Regions from separate parts of the Homo sapiens genome. Here regions 2 and 3 are each reported to be linked to region 1. Evidence: microRNA targets listed by miRTarBase, many of them from high-throughput screens and not tested one by one. Region 1 holds a microRNA gene; each other region holds the end of a gene's coding sequence.
What was found. The annotated mature microRNA hsa-miR-129-1-3p reads AAGCCCUUACCCCAAAAAGUAU and lies in region 1 at 911-932, shown strand. An mRNA with a match to its seed (bases 2 to 7 or 8) in the 3' UTR can be bound and repressed. Matches are read on the target gene's strand: a 7mer-m8 pairs with bases 2 to 8, a 7mer-A1 pairs with bases 2 to 7 and ends in A, and an 8mer does both.

Region 2: the mRNA of KLRD1 is a reported target of hsa-miR-129-1-3p. Seed matches in the 3' UTR shown: 7mer-m8 at 2,307-2,313.
Region 3: miRTarBase lists CHCHD7 as a target of hsa-miR-129-1-3p. Seed matches in the 3' UTR shown: 7mer-m8 at 1,373-1,379.

What each region holds. Positions count from the first base shown.
Region 1 is chr7:128,207,010-128,210,009 of GRCh38, forward strand. MIR129-1 (microRNA 129-1) reads left to right here and starts at 863; the gene lies at 863-934. It overlaps LOC124901744 (a long non-coding RNA gene), which reads left to right. Exons shown (of 2, transcript XR_007060516.1): 1 at 1-66.
Region 2 is chr12:10,314,358-10,317,357 of GRCh38, forward strand. It overlaps KLRD1 (killer cell lectin like receptor D1), which reads left to right. Exons shown (of 6, transcript NM_002262.5): 6 at 316-3,000. The coding sequence ends at 436. Among named protein-coding and RNA genes, the nearest start is that of KLRD1, 8.0 kb to the left of the region's middle.
Region 3 is chr8:56,216,757-56,220,110 of GRCh38, reverse strand. It overlaps CHCHD7 (coiled-coil-helix-coiled-coil-helix domain containing 7), which reads right to left. Exons shown (of 4, transcript NM_001011671.3): 4 at 1,302-2,780. The coding sequence ends at 2,676. Among named protein-coding and RNA genes, the nearest start is that of CHCHD7, 6.6 kb to the right of the region's middle.

The DNA of each region.
Region 1 (3,000 bases):
CAAACCTGCAATGGTGACACTTCTGGAATCTCCTTGCCTCTTCCAGGGCTGCAGCCTCTAAGGCAGGTAAGACCCAGGCCAGGTTGGCTCAGGGACCTCTGTGTAGCATTGCTGACCTCATGTTATGGAAGCAGGAGGCCACTGTGAGATGCGGGGCTTAGCTGCCACCTTGGAGAAACAGCTCATTTGAGACAGCCAGGAGCAATTTAATCAGGCTAAGTTGGCCTGGCCCTGGGACCCCTGCCTTTTCCATGACAGCAGCGTCTGCTGAAAGCACATCAGAGCCCACACTTGCAAGTTCAAAGATGTCTGTCCCCAAGGTCTCAACCAGGGATGGCATCTTCTTCTTGGGGCACTTAGCATTTTGAGACTCTGGGAGAGTCCCCTGTGGGAACTGGGTGTACTGACACTGTGGAACCAAGGAAGCACCACGGCTGCAGAGAGACCCTGGGCCAGACCATCCAAATGAAGCCCAGGCACAGCAGAGGGCTCTGAGGAGGCGCAGGATGCAGGAGATGAAAGGGGAAAATGAAGGGGAGCCGCAGGTTCAAACTGCCCCTTCCCAGGAGTGAGCTACAGCTTGGCCACTTCTGTCTCATAAGAAGGAGGTTGTGACTTTGGGAGGTGGAGGGGGATTACAGCTGGGATTCCTGTTGCCTGCCTCCTGCCTCTGGGGCTCTCAGCTTTCTCTTCTCCCCAGGACTCTTTTCTTCCTCTCCCCCCACCTCCCCCCCCACTCCCCTCCTCCCCCTAGGTCCTGGCTCTCCCTCCCCGACCCGGTCTTCTTGGTACCAGCTAAGCCCTGGAGGGGCCACAGCCTCCCCTCCAGCCCCCCTGCCATGGGATGGCTGCTGTCTCCTTTGGATCTTTTTGCGGTCTGGGCTTGCTGTTCCTCTCAACAGTAGTCAGGAAGCCCTTACCCCAAAAAGTATCTGCGGGAGGCCTTGTCCACAGGGGAGGCTGCCCCAAGGGCTCCAGGTGAGTCACAGCAAACCCAAGAACAGTGAATGGAACTGGGGTCTCCTGGCTCTCCTTTAGAGTTGCTGAGTGACTTTAAGTCCAGCACTGAGCCTCTCTGGGCCTCACTTATGCCACTCTTTTCATCATTTACCAGTGGGCAATGTCAAGTGAGAGACTCCACAGATAAGAAAAATAAAGGAGTGGCTCAATTACATGCCAGGGAAAACCGCTTTGGTGGATGAAGGTCACACAGCTCTCCCAGCATTCTGTCCTCTGTATACAGATGATCTCCTTCTGAAATCCTTTTGGGGATGACCCCCTTCCACACCATGGACACTTCTGGGTGGGTTGTCACTCAAGAGGTCCTGCCCTCTTCTGCCCACTGGGTGGACACAAGAATTGAAATCTGTAAAGGATACTGAGATTGGGAACAAAATAATTGATGCTGATTGATCCCAGCAGTGTATGGCGAGAAGATGACAAGCTTCCACTGCCTGTATCACTGACTTGCCTAATGTCTGCCCTGCCCTGGCCTGGATCTTAACCGCGCCCTTCATTCTGTGAACTACCCCCAAATCCTTCAAATAAAGTCCTTGATTGCTTGTTAGAGTCAATAATATTGCTTGCTGAGGATCCAGAGACCTCTAGAGAGAGGAGGTGGAATTGCACACCCTGGGAAAGAGGAAGGTGTGAGTTACCATCCCTGGGGGAGGCCCCACAGGTGTCAGCCCTCAGGGGGCAGGGGACTGACAGGGGACAGAGCTGACAGCAGGGGTCATATACAAGAGTTGGGTTGGGGGCCTAAGGAAACTTCCCCAAAGGTGAGAACCATGTTGGGATAAAGGACAGAGGAGGACCTATATGATATGGAGAGAAGTGAAATACAGCTAAGTGGGGTCCTCACCTCTAAAGAGGCCAGGGGCCGGGCACATCTGTAATCCCAGCACTTTGGGGAGCCGAGGTGGACAGATCACTTGAGGTCAGGAGTTCAAGACCAGCCTGGCCAACATGGTGAAACCCCGACTCTTACTAAAAATACAAAAATTAGCTGGGCATGGTGGCGCAAGTCTGTAATTGCAGCTACTTGGGAGGCTGAGGCAGAGAATCGCTTGAACCAAGGAGACAGAGGTTGCAATGAGCCGAGACTGCGCCACTGCACTCCAACCTGGGTGAGAGAGCAAGACTCCATCTAAATAAATAAATAAATGGGGCAGAAAACAGGTTATGCCAATTACAGGTTGTTGTAGATTCCCAGTCCCTCCTCCTCATGCCGGATAGCTGGGGGATCGACACTGCAGCCGCGGTGAGGCCACGGCAGGTCAGGAATGACCACACGGACATCCATCTTGTTGTCCACCACTGACAATGAGACGGATGACCAGGCTCCCGAGTGCCGAGTGCCGTAGTGCTCTGCGGCCAGGAAATGGCCAGGGGCCAGGGACCCTCCTTATCTGGAATCCTCCCACTCGGCCCTGGGGTGGCCACTTGTGCCGAGACAGCCCAAGGTTGGGGGCGTGGCATCAGGCCTCCCCAAGGCCTTTACTGCTGCAGAGCCACAGCCCTCAAGAAACAAGGCCCCTGGAAGATTCCTTCCCTAAGCAGAAGCTGCTGGAGGCCATTTTAAGGCAATATGTGAGCTGGCGTGTCGCCTGCAACTGAGTTCAGAGGTGCTAAAGGATCCTGAGTGGGGCTGGGGGTTTGCTGTGGAGGTTCAGGAAGAAAGGCTGGGTTTACGGGTCCAGGAACAATTACTGCAGGTTTGTGAGGCCAACCGAGCCCCCACTAGGTGACAGCCAGACAGCAGTGGGAGAAGGGACGATGGCGACGAGCAAAACGGCACGGCTGAATAATACCTGTGACCACGGGAGCTCCTGCCCCTGATGCTATCCTGACCCTCCCCATCCCACCCAGCTGCAAAGCAGTTGTTGCTCTGCCACCTGCTGCCAGCATGCGGGTGGGAATGCGTGTGCAGCTCAAGGGTGGCATCGTGTGGTCATAGTGGGGTAGTGCACCTCACAGCTTCCAAAGAGCTTCATTCTG
Region 2 (3,000 bases), not on the chromosome of region 1:
CCTAGACTAGATCAGATAATACATCTTAAATAAAATAGAAGAAAAGCATATCACATATTTAAACCATTAATGACAACAGAAAAACAGCAAGGAAAAAATCCCTGGCCTCAATGCTATTGATTAGTGAGAAAATAACTGGGTATTTTGTAGCATTACACTAGAAAATCATGAAAATTGTGGTTACTGAAAAAAAAAGGACTCAATATGTTAGTATCTCACTCAAATGCTTTTAAAATTTATATCATTTAATTGAAAAATGCCCTGAACATTCTTACTTCCTTTTTGTGTATGTGAACATTTTCTTCTTCATTACAGATTTCCATCATTTGAAACTTTTAATACAAAGAACTGCATAGCGTATAATCCAAATGGAAATGCTTTAGATGAATCCTGTGAAGATAAAAATCGTTATATCTGTAAGCAACAGCTCATTTAAATGTTTCTTGGGGCAGAGAAGGTGGAGAGTAAAGACCCAACATTACTAACAATGATACAGTTGCATGTTATATTATTACTAATTGTCTACTTCTGGAGTCTATAAAATGTTTTTAAACAGTGTCATATACAATTGTCATGTATGTGAAACAATGTGTTTTAAAATTGATGAAATTCGTTCACCTACATTTGAGAATTATAAAATTAACATAAAGAATTTTGTATTTTCATTTAATGTATATATTTAATGTTAAATTCAATGTAGTTTTATTACACATTTATGTAATTTTATTTACATTCTTGCTAATTCTCAGCAGAAATTTAAATAAGATTTAATTCACATCAAATAAAATTTAGAAAATAAAATTTAACTCACACTGCCCAGGCTGGAGCATAGTGGCAAGATCATAGCTCATTGCAAGCTCAAGTGATCCTCCTGACTCAGCCTCCCAAGTAGCTAGGACTGCAGGCACCATGTCACTATGCCCGACTAATTTTTAATTTTTAATTTTTTGTCAAGACAAGGTCTTGCTATGTTGCCCAGGCTGGTCTTGAACTCCTGGCCTCAAGGGATTCTCCCACCTTGGATTCCCAAAGTGCTGGGATTATAGGTGTGAACCACCATCCCTGGCCCTCTTCACATTCTTGTATGAAGATTGATTTGGGAAAAATGCATTTCAGGTAACTGACAAAAGATATAGGATGAAAAATAATATCTTTCAAATGTTTAATTTGAACTAAGAGAGCTTATGCATTGCACTTTCTGGAGATTTGTAATGTTTTGGTTTTGTTGTCCATGTGACTACAAAATAATATATTTTTTAATTAAAAAATTTAAAATAATACAGGCAAGCATGTAATGATTATCAATATTTTTTTCCACCAACTATCCTATACCCCTGACCTCCTTTCATTAGGCATTATCTTCTGTTTTGATTTTAACACTTAGAGTGGTTTTCTCTGTTATGAATCAAAGCTGATCTATTTTCATCATTTTTGTGATGAAAAAATTAATTTTGATTGACTTAGGATGGAAGGATTTGGACTGGGTGTGGTGGTTTATGCCTGTAATCGCAGCACTTTGGGAGGCCAAGGCGGGTGGATCACTTGAGGTCAGGAGTTTGAGACCAGCCTGGCCAACATGGTGAAACCCTGTCTCTACTAAAAATACAAAAATTGGCTGGGTGTGGTAGTGCACACCTGTAATCCCAGCTATTTGGGAGGCTGAGTCGAGAGGATCGCTTGAACCTAGGAGGTGGAGGTTGCAGTGAGTCGAGATTGCACCACTGCACTCCAGCCTGGGTGACAGAGCCAGACTCCTCTCCAAAAAAAAAAAAAAAAAAAAAAGATGAAAGGATTTGGAACCTTAATTGCATCTGAAAAACTGCCTCACCTTTGTTATTTAGTGTACTCCAACCACGGAGTAACATCCCATCATAATCCCAAATCCTACTCAAACAAAAGGGGAAGGGATTATGCAGGTGTACACTAGGCCACTGGTGTACCAATTAGAAACCACTTTAGAGTTATGCCTACTGTACCCACATAATCCTAAAAATATGTTACAACTGCTACTTCATAGTTTATGCCACTTATTTTATTTTTTACTTTTATTATTTTTTTTTCTGAGACACGGTTTCATTCCCATTGCCCAGGCTGTAGTGCAATGATGCAATCATGGTTCACTGCAGCTTCAACTTCCCAGGCTCAAGGGATCCTCCCACCTCAGCCTTCTGAGTACTTGGGACTCAGGTGCGAGCCATCATGCTCAGCTAATTTTTTGTATCATTTGTAGAAATGGGGTTTTGTATTGTTGCCCAGGCTGATCTTGAACTCCTGGGGTCAAGGATTCTGCCCGCCTTGGCCTCCTAAAGGGCTGGAATTACAGGCATAAGCCACTGTGCCCGGCCAGTTTATATAATTTAAACACTGCCTTTTGGTTCCTTGATTCCCATATGCTAGGACAAGTAATTATTATTTTATTTTATTTTACTTTAAGTTCTGGGTTACATGTGCAGAACCTGCAGGTTTGTTACATAGGTATACATGTTCCAAGGTGGTTTGCTGCACCTATTGACCCATCATCTAGGTTTTAAGTCCCACATGCATTAGGTATTTGTCCTAATGCTCTTCCTCCCCTTGCCCCCCACCCCCCGACAGGCCTTGGTCTGTGATGTTCACCTCCCTGTGTCCATGTGTTCTCATTGTTCAACTCCCACTTATTAGTAAGAACATGTGGTGTTTGGTTTTCTGTTCCTGTGTTAGTTTGCTGAGAATGATGGTTTCCAGCTTCATCCATGTCGCTGCAAAGGACATGAACTCATTCTTTTTATGGCTGCATAGTATTCCATGGTGTATATGTGCCATATTTTCTTTATCCAGTCTATCACTGATGGGCATTTGGGTTGGTTCCAAGTCTTTGCTATGGTAAATAGTGCTGCAATAAACATACGTGTGCATGTGAGGACAAGTAATTATTTTCTGTTTTTCTCAATACATTAATTATTAGTTCCTCCGTTAGTTGTGAAGTCCTAATTAGGGAAAAGGAGTTAGGCTGGCGGGAGC
Region 3 (3,354 bases), not on the chromosome of region 1:
AATCCCAGGTACTTGGGACTCTGAGGCACAAGAATCACTTGACCCTGGCAGGCAGAGGTTGCAGTGAGTTGAGATTGTGCCACTGCACTGCAGCCTGGGCGATAGAGCAAGTCTCTCTCAAAAAAATAAATAAATAAAAAGTAAAATGAAAAGGGGAGTGAGTGCTAACAGGTACAGGGTTTCAGTTTGGGGTAATGAAATGATTACTTTCTAAAATTGATTGTGGTGATAGCTGCACAACTTCATGAATATACAAGATCACTGAATTGCATACTTTTAAGAGTTGATATACATGACATATCTCAATAAGGCTGTTATCTTTTTAAAGTCTTTCAGGAAGTCAAGTAAGAGGCATGTCTTTGTGTGGACTCCATGTGCCACAGTCCTAGGAGGGAGGCTCTGGTGATCACTCGAACCCTGCAGCTCTAGTTCTGCCCCCACATCCAGGTTTGGACTGAGCTATCCCTTGGTCCTGAGCATTTAAACGTTTCTCCCCTGGGCCAGTTGCAGTGACTCATGCCTGTAATTCTGGCACTTTAGGAGGCTGAGGCAGGTGGATCACTTGAGGCCAGGAGTTTGAGACCAGCCTGGCAACATGGTGAAACCCCATCTCTACTAAAAATACAAAAATTAGCTGGGCATGGTGATGGGTGCCTGTAGTCCCAGCTACTTGGGAGGCTGAGGCACGAGAATCACTTCAACCTGGCAGGCAGAGGTTCCAGTAAGCCAAGATAATACCGCTGCACTCCAGCCTAGGCAACAGAGCGACACTCATCTCAAAAAAAAAGTTTCTTCCGCAATCTCCAGAACTATAGCTCCCTACAGAGTGCCACTGGTAAGCCAACTGCAGTTCTTTTTTTTTCTTTCTATGATGGAGTCTCGCTCTGTCGTCCAGGCTGGAGTACAGTGGCGCCATCATGGCTCACTGCAAGCTCCGCCTCCCAGGTTCACGCCATTCTCCTGCCTCAGCCTCCCAAGTAGCTTGGACTACAGGCACCCACCACCACGCCCAGCTAATTTTTTTTTGTATTTTTAGTAGAGACAGGGTTTCACCATGTTAGCCAGGATGGTCTTGATCTTCTGACCTCGTGATCCGCCTGCCTCGGCCTCCCAAAGTGCTGGGATTACAGGCGTAAGCCACCGCGCCCGGCAGCCAACTGCAGTTCTTGAACTACATCAACCTCAACCCAGAGGCCCAGCGGGCACGAGGGCCTGGTGGGAAGGCAGGTGTCCAAGTCTTTACCTGAAGTGCTCAGCAATAAGGCAAAGGTACTGAAAATAAAGACTCAACAAGAGTGGCATCAGGACAACTAGTTACAAGATGAATGTTGATATTGGTATGTACCTTCAAAGGAGTGACATTAAAATTCCAAGCCCTTTAACAAGTGTGCTTAAAAATACAAAAATACTTCTTACACAGGTAGGCATTCATTCTTTTCTGGTCCTATTTTAATCCATCATTTTTATAGCAGTCAATACAAATCAAAAGAATTTTGGAAATGATTCATTTTTTATTCAAATATAACTACATTTAACAATCAAGGTCATGTGGCTTAGAAACCTGAGCTTGGTTTTAGACTCAGACAGACAGTTCATTGTCGGCAGCCATTAAAACAATGTTCTTGACCCAAGACCAGATGAAGAGAAGGGACAAAAGCAATGTTTTCAAGTACACATTAAATTTCATTCAATAATAGTATGTCTTCATAAAACTACCATGAATAAAACAAACGATTCTAAAAGGCAGTGGGCATAAGGAGGGCTGCTTCACAGTCTACCCCAGTCACCACATTGAATAATCGTATTGTGTTTATATCATAAAGTGAAGTTCTAGTCTCATCCCAGTGTTGAGTTCACCTGATGAACCCTGACCCTTTTCCCTGCCCAACTCATCCTGCAAATAGAAATCTTACTTCTAAGGGAATCCATTTGTCTTTCTTCCCATTACTGTGGTTCAAAAACTGATACTACAGCTGCAGAAGGCAACCCAATATTTAAGGATTTTAATCACAGAATCCTGTAACTAAGACTTTCTTTAAAGAAAGACAACCAGTTCTTTTTTATGTCATTTATTTAGAAAAACCCATTTGCCCCTAGTGAATGTACTAACCTTATTTAAACAAAGATAAGTGAGGGAAGTAAGAAGTGATTTGAGGAATGAGCCTGGGATCTGAGGCCCACCACACATTCCTTACCTTCAACTTACCTTTCCAGTCTTCTCCCACCACTGCTCCACCCACCTGAGATTCTAGGTGGAGCAATCTACAGGATACTCTCTGAATGTGGTTCCAGCTTCTCTTGCCTCACACTCTTGCTCATAACATTTCCTTTCCTTGGAAACATTGCCTTCATCTCAGCCCCATTCAGTCTTTACTTGTTCACATCATACTCTTCTTTCAAAACCCAGTGGAAAAGCTCAATTTCTCATGTAGCCTTACCTAACTCCATGCCTCCAGAAAGTCATGCAAACTCATGCCACAACACAGCCAACAGCAACATACCATCGGCATGGCACTGAGAGCAAGCAAAAAGGACACGGGGTGACTTCACTGTCTCCACTTGAAGAACTTAAGGTCTGTCTGGGTGAGGGGTGTACAGTCTTAAATATTACAGCAATCATTTATTAGAAATATTCATCTGCTTCTAAGTTATATAAACACTTTTAATGCAAACATTCAATAGGGCATATTTCCCACTGCTCTCAAGATTTCATCTCTTTCTGCTGCCGTAGGCATAAATGGCTTCACTCCGTTCTTTCTTCTCTGCATCACGATAGAATTCTGTGTACAGGCATTAAAATAAAAAAGAAGAAACCAAAATCAGTCATGTATTAAATGCTAATCATTTGCCAGTAATTTGCTATTGCTTCCTCAAAAAGGAAATTCTAAAAACCAAGTTTTTTTTAAAAAAAAAATCCCAAAACCTAATTATAGGACTCCAGATAAACGTATTTAAATTAGTAACAATTAAATAGAAGTACTCATTCCCACAGGAATACATTAACAGCAATTGGGATGAGAATATACAAAGTACAAAGTACAAAAGTATATACAGTCTGTCAAGAAGAGCTACTGAATAATCGTGAAATAAAACCAACAGTGCATTTAGCAAAGCGAAAGGAAATAGCTGGATCCCGTGGTTCAAGGAAACAGAAATTATATACCAATGTTTTCAGAAAAATGGACCATTTTAACTTCCACGGATGGCAGTGAGAGAGAAAAAGGCAGAAATTGAAGCCTAACATGATGTGTTATGACAAGGGAAGTTAAACATTCTGTTCATCTCCAGGAAAACTAAATTTATAACAAAGACATTGTTTTAGGGCTGCAGATACTTAAATGTCTAAGAAGACCC